Homo sapiens: one gene and its partner. The protein of the gene in region 2 purifies or fractionates together with the protein of the main gene of each other region. This does not show direct contact. Each region holds a gene or a part of one and is shown on either strand. Other genes may lie near its edges.

Region 1 (3,830 bases), about 38 Mb from region 2:
AGAAATAGTTGGCTTCATCTCACCAATTCTGCATCTTGCTTTGGTTTTATAGGTTTATCTGAAATACTTGGAACCAGAAGCATTTGAGATTTTGGACTTTTTCAGATTTTAGAATACAGTAAGTCCTCACTTAACATCATTTATAGGTTCTTGGAAACTGTGACGTTAAGCAAAACAACATAAAACAAAACCAGTTTTACCACAGGCTAATTGATACAAACAAGAGTTAAATCCCTGTGGCATTTATCTGGTGATAAAAACATCATCAAATTTCTAAATAATGACCCTAAACACTTCAAATATTAAGCACTGAAATAAAATGTGAGCTATACATACAATTTAGAAAGATTATCATTACTTTTTCAGGTGGAGTTTTGCTCGTCACCCAGGCTGTAGTGCAATGGCACAATCTCGGCTTGCTGCAACCTCCTGCTGGGTTCAAGTGATTCTCCTGCCTCAGCCTCCCGAGTAGCTAGGAATACAGGTGCCCGCTACCATGCCCAGCTCATTTTTGTATTTTCAGTGAGACGGGGTTTCACCATGTTGGCTGGGCTGGTCTCAAACTCCTGACCTCAGGTGATCCACCCGCCTTGGACTCCCAAAGCGCTGAGATTACAGGCGTAAGCCACCCTGCCCGGTCACATTTGAGAAAGAATCATAAAAACAAGATAATTATTAACCCAATTTTTGGTGAAGAGGTGGTGGGTTAAATCAAGGAATAAATGTTTTGCAAAGTGAAAATTGTAAGGAGCACACCCTATCACCAGGCAGTTCTAAAACAATGACAAAGACGGAAGGCTCACTGAGCGGTTTCATACTGCATCCTTTAACTGTCTTGCCTTTGTATGATTACTATGTATCTTACAAATTTTTATTTTACGACAATTTGTATTCATTCATTCATTTTCCAACTTGCTTTTCCCAGTTCAAGGTCACAGCTGGTCAGAGCACAAGACAAGAACCCACCATGGACAGGATGCTATTCTATCGCAGGGCACACTCAGACACACCCACACTCATTCAGACTGGGACAATTTAGACATGCCAGTTGAGCAATCCTCCCACCTCAGCCTCCCAAGTAGCTAGGACCACAGGTGCGCACCACCATGCATGGCTAATTTTTAAATTTTTTGTAAACATGGGGTCTCCTTGTGTTACCCAAACTGGTCTTGAACTCCTGGGCTCAAGTAATCCTTCTGCCTCGGCCTCCTAAAGCACTGGGATTACAGGAGTGAGCCACTGAGCCCGGCCAATGTTTTTTCTTGTCAATTTTATGACAAAACACACTATTTGATGACCTGCTGTATTTGTGTTATACTTATGGTTATACATCTCTAATCCAAAAATCCATGCTCCAATGAATGTTTCCTTTGAGTGTCATGCCTGCGCTCAAAGAGTTTTGAATTCTGGAGCATTACAGATTAGGGATGCTCAGCCTGTGCTAGCTAGATTACGCATTTCTTTGCTTGTGAGCTTTGAGAATCTTCTTCTACCTTTTCCCACTGTATAAATTTCACTAGAAGAATAAAAATTCAAGAACAATCCAAGAAAGGAAAGAGATGACTTATTAAATGTATTCAGGCTCTGTCCGATCCCCATTAAGAGGTAAAAGAGAAACTAAACATTGGTAAGTGCCTATTATTTGCTGGACACTGTGTTAAGCATCTGTTTCCTTTATTAGAGTTCAGGTAAACACTATTTTTATATCTGCTAATGACAAACCTGAAAATGCTCAATTTTAAAAGGCAAGCTTTTAGAGGCAAAGTTTTCTAACCTGTTTCATTATCAGACAGAAAGGAGGCATCAAGAAAGGACAAGAATGAATAATGAGTTCATCCCAGACTTCTAAGGCCAACACTTGATAAATAACTAGGAGTTCACTAAAATAGTGAAGAACATCTCTTACATTAGGTTTTCTTACAGAAACTGAAGAACCAAAGATCTCTAAACTTTGTCTCATGATGAATTATTTAAAAAGTCAATATTTAGGATAAGGCAGATAGAAACAGAAAAAAAAACACCTTAGAATTTAATTTAAATAGAATCAGATGCTGGGTATGCATTTTCTCAGCAATAATGTTAATACCGCAGAAAAACTAGACAGCAAAGTTAAGGCACTTTAATTATAAAATGAGATTAAATGAAATTACAAGTCTATCACAGGAGGTAATGTTGCCTACTTGGATTTGTCTTGAGACTTTCAACAGGTCAAGACAATGTCACATTTATCTGGAATTGCTGGAGGATCAAGAATCATTTTATCACATGAATGGGTTTTTAAAATACTGAAGTTTATTAAAACCAAAATAAATGATTTAAACTGCTTATCATAGAATAACAAAAAATATATGCATCCATGCTTTTACACAATGCTTTCCTAAGGATTCCAGTTTACTACATATAGCCATATTATACAGGACTTATTGTAAATCAGTTTCTCTCTCTCTTTTCCCTATTTCCCATCAACTCTGTGAGCCACTGTAGTTATGAATAACCTGTTAAAAACTCTCCAAAGAGCAAATGCATAGCTTTTGTGCTGAGCTGAATGACAACTGTATGAGGTGCTATGCGAGATACTCAGGGCTTTTTTCCCAGTGCAGTTCAGGGTAAACAGTTACATGCTCGAAAAGACTGAAGTGGTGGGAAGACTGGTCCTTGATTCTGCGTAGGGTTACCATACTTGTTAGCATATTTTTATAAAAATTACAACATCTAGTAGTTCACTCATGCTCTGTGTAACTTCCTAGCAGGCTTCATCTATTAGCAAACAATTATGATTTAAAAGGTTTTCATCATTCCTATGTAGTATTAGATCACCACCTTGTGTCAGAAACCTGAGCAAATAGCAGACATCTATATTTTAGATACCTTAGTTGTCCAAAGCTTTACTGTCCAGTCAAACGATGAAGTGACAAAAAGATGTGAGAAGTCTACTGCTCCAACAGCTGCATGACAATGGATGCCAGTGATTGGTCCTTGATGCCCCTCAAACATCTCACTGATTCCAGCTTTGCTAATTTCATAAAAGTGAAAATGTTAGAGAAGTCTCCTATAAGTAGACCAATTACATACACATTTTATTATAGGTTTATATATCAGGCCTTGACTTCATTTTGACAGACTTAACTCTGTGCTCATAACTTATCAGAATTAACTTTGTTGAGTGTTATTCCATCCACATTTGGTAACTCTACTAAAGCAATAAGTACCTTTGGAACTGTAAACATCATGCTGTTGACAACAGACCTCAAAAGTCCAATATCTGAAGTGGTGTAATAGAAACAAAGATACCCTACATTTAAGAGAGACAATCTGGGCTACTTTTAAAACAAAAGCTTTGAAGTGAAGGTGATCTATATTTGAGATGAAATCTGGACACTCAATTTTTTTTTAAGGAAGCAATAAGGTACAGCTAGACAATTTCAAAACAGACAGAACGGAAGGAGAAATATTACTCAGTTTAAAATATGTATGTGACATTACTGTACAATTATCAGGAGAATGAACTAATGCTTAAAGTCCAAATAAATCAAAAGGGGAAACAGCTGAAAATCTCATTTATAAGTCTATAGGTCAATATTGGCATGTGCATATTGTATTTGTAACTACTGAATGTTCCTGCCTATCACTAACTTACGTGAGTACATGCACACACACAAAACCACAACCCACAAAATCTAAACACATCATGAATCCAAAATTATCTTTTATACAAAAAGGTATTAAGTTTTAATTTTATGTGCCTGAACACAAAAAATCTGTCACAAATAACAAGTAGATCTACGACAGATTTCTACTTAAATAAGACAATTTGTTTCAATGGGATTAAA
Region 2 (3,613 bases):
TAATCTGAGCTGTAAGGAGCTAAAAGATGAACAGGGGTGCAGCTATACCACGTATTTGTTTTTGTGGCCTGTACAGTATCAATTCCTCTCTTCTGGCAGGAGTAGCCTGAATTAACTTTGGGGGAAACGTTTCCTCTCCACGATTAGCTCAGGTAGTATGGAGGAGAATAAAGCCACTTCTCCCCTTATTCTCCTTCTACTCCAACCACCTGTGACAGAGTTGGGTACGTGAGCCAATCCTGGTCAATTAGCATAAGTAGGCAGGAGATCCAAGTATTAATCGTTCAGTGATTTTCAGACCCTGGATTTGAGCTACTGTAAAGGGGCTTTCTTTGATAGGTTGTGAAATCTGGAGCTTCTGGTGCCCATCACGGAAGGGGTGCCTGCCTGAGAAGGAAGCCAACACAGAGGATGCAAAACTAAAAGTTGGAAAAGGGAAGATTCCTGATGACGTCGTTTGAGGGCCTGGACCCAGCCATGCCTGAGGCAGATACACCTGAGTAGTCAGTTACTTGAGCCTACAAATTCACCTTTACGTTTAAGCCCGTTTAATTAGAATTTTTGTCACTTGCAAAAGATAGCATCCTGCTAATACAGTAGTGATAAAAATAAATTTCCTTATTAATTGAGCTAATATAAAATCATTTAGTATAGAGCCTGACACATAATAGAAACTCAGCCATAATAATAGCCTTGTTTTCACAATTTTTCTTTGGTTGTATTACACACATGCACACACACACGCACTATATCACTATATATATATATAAAATTTTTTTTCCAGAGGAGAAGCAATTAAACAGTCTGAAACCAAAACTAGCAGTTAGGTGACAAGCAATTTTATTTTGCAAAACAATCACTATACAGCAACAAATACATTTGCAAATTTGATTGAAAAACATGAACTAACTACAACCAGCCATTGAAGAAATGCCTTTCTATGGTAACAGGCTCTAGAATTATCAGAAGAAAGAAACCCCCCACAGATTTGTAACAGTGTGTTGGAACCTCGGAATCCCAGCATACAGAGTATACTTTTTGTTGATTTTTTTTTCTTTTTGCTAAAGTTGAAGTAGATTTTTATGATTGACATTTTATTTTCTGAGTTTGAAAATAAGCTTTTTCCTGCAGAGAGTCTTGGCCTTCACCTACACACCCAAGCTAAAAATCCTAGGTGTAAAAAAACTCAAAACATCAATGCTTATTTTAGCACGTCAATCTTTGAAGGAATGCTTAAAATTTCCTTACCAAGCCATGAATCTACTTTATCTCTAGTATTTAGACCATGAGTAGTTTATTTTCCTTATTGTGGCTTGAAAAATAGAAGAAAACTGTAATTGCAGCTATGTCAAAATCAACCACATTCAGGTTATTTCCTTAATAAAATACTGATGGAATGTTATATATTGGCTGATTATTCCACGCTTGCTGTATTACTGTAGGTGTGTGTGTGTGTGTGTGTGTGTGTGTGTGTGGAGAAGGTCACTACAATCAGTACATTCTTCCATTTAATGGCATTCTCTCTTCAGCCTTCTCCAGCCGTACCTAGCTGGTGTTACACAGGTGTCATACTTGTAGGTGGGATGTCAGCCCATCACGCTGCTGGAACTCAGCAGGTAAATCCAGAGAGAGTTGGTTCCTAAATGAACGTGGCCTTTGAAACTCATCATGAACTCGGGTCTTTCCTGCATCATTATGAGGTATCCAATTTCTGGTTGCAAGTGACCCAGAGGTTGAGTTCACTGGAGAAGTTGGCCTTTAAACTCTTCACAGCTCTGGATTACTTACGTATTCTTATACAGGTTCTCAAAGGCTAAAGCCAGAGAGAAACTGGCATAGTAGATCTAGAATTGAGACCACGAAGATTTCATTCCTAGATCAGCGTATGTGTGTCCCCACAAGAGTGGTGCTCAAAAAGCTTAATTTGAGTCGTTATCTTGAGAGTGAAGGCAAGATAGGTTCTACCCCTTAACCCCACAAGAAGATATTTAACCTGTGTGTTTCTCTCTTTTACTGGTACAAACGATCAGTTCCTTTCTGTTAACTTTAATAAAGAATTGTATTTCCATACAAAGCAAGAACATTTATTCATTATAATTTTGTTGTGATTAGAAATAAACATTTGTTTTAATGCCAAATCTAGTAGTTTGGTGCCTTGTATAATCTTTATTTTTGACATGTATTTGTAATAAACTGACTTCTAGTATGCAGAATGTTTACCTAGTGTTAACTTATATAAAAACTTTAAAGAATGTTGAGAAAAATACTTATTTCACAGGTTAAAACTTTTCTAATGAGCTGTTAACTTCTTTCTAGAGAAATTTAATCACTATTTAAGACTATGAAAACATGTAATAAAATACCCTAAGTCTCCACACACCTTTCTTCTATTTTCTGGTGCACTTCAAGGGAAGCTGATGAATAAATTGCCCAGATTGGTCAAATCAAACCTCACAGCAATTAATAGGCAGAAAATAGATATAATGATCCTAAGGTTTCTAAGGTTTTGACTGTCATATAAAATAACTGATTTATAGATGGTTTAAGACACGTTTGCCTGTGTAAAATCTCTTAGCTGAGAATGAGTGGTGTGGGTTTGCTCCTAGGGTTTCTTGTATGGCAGTTACACTGGTTGCCATATCCACTGGGTCACCAAAAAGCACCTGTGTCTCTGCCTTTGCATCCCTTGGCTTTTGTCTTGGATGTTTCTATACTTCCCCGTTGCCTCAGTACATCCTCATCATTTCCTCCTTTATATTCAGGAACTGATTTGGCTCAAAGAGATCATACGCCTAGTGGACCATTTGATTTTAATGGTTCAGATCCAACCTACCAGCCCTGAGCAAGAAAAAGAACAGATAAAATTTTTAAAAAGTGTCCATCTAGCCTGGTAGCTCTTTGCCTTAATCAGGCCATTGACTATTTCATTCCTTATTTGTAAGTCTAAGATGAATGATTTGTGAGAGGAACTAATTGATTTGTGAGTTCTAGACTGTATATACAGTCAGAACAGTATTATCTACTGATAAATAATACTAGATCACAGTGTGTTACTTTACAGAGTGCAATGTTGGAGTCTTGGAAAAAAACTGATTTAGATATCTGTGTCTCAAGTGTTTTATAGCTATAGCTTCCCAAAGTATTGTATTTTTTCTTTCTGATCAGGGGATCTTTACTTTGGGTAAGAAAGACAAACATCTTCTATTAGAGAATTTAATAAACAGATACTATTTGGAAAAATGAGAAAACATGTTTCAAACTATTATAGTTAGTTTCAACTTTCAACTTTAGCAAATGGAAAAAAAAAGAAAAATAAAGAAAAAATCTTAAGTCGGTTTCATGAATAATAATAGGAATAAACCCCAAACTATCCTGTGATTAAAAATGAGATAAATCCATAATCTTAAACCAACAATCTGTAAACCCTTTCATGTATAACTGGACCCACCCCCACAAACTCCATGTTGGTGAAAGCAAAGAAAAATAATTTTTTGTCTAGCATCACGGGAGAGACTTGTATCTGGCACTAAAACAGGGTTACGGCTTTGAGTTGTTACAGAAAGCAACTTCATGCTAAAATTTTTTGTCTTTTTTAATGTATTTTTTTTAAATA

Evidence for each region.
Region 1: the proteins of MAP2 (region 2) and DYNC1I2 fractionate together in Homo sapiens (co-fractionation; one large-scale study listed by BioGRID). This does not show direct contact.

What each region holds. Positions count from the first base shown.
Region 1 is NC_000002.12:171,728,892-171,732,721, reverse strand, and holds part of DYNC1I2 (cytoplasmic dynein 1 intermediate chain 2), read right to left. Parts: intron 3,014-3,830; coding exon 2,869-3,013; intron 1-2,868. UniProt on the Homo sapiens protein: Acts as one of several non-catalytic accessory components of the cytoplasmic dynein 1 complex that are thought to be involved in linking dynein to cargos and to adapter proteins that regulate dynein function.
Region 2 is NC_000002.12:209,731,323-209,734,935, reverse strand, and holds the end of MAP2 (microtubule-associated protein 2), read right to left. Parts: 3' UTR 824-3,613; downstream 1-823. UniProt on the Homo sapiens protein: The exact function of MAP2 is unknown but MAPs may stabilize the microtubules against depolymerization. They also seem to have a stiffening effect on microtubules.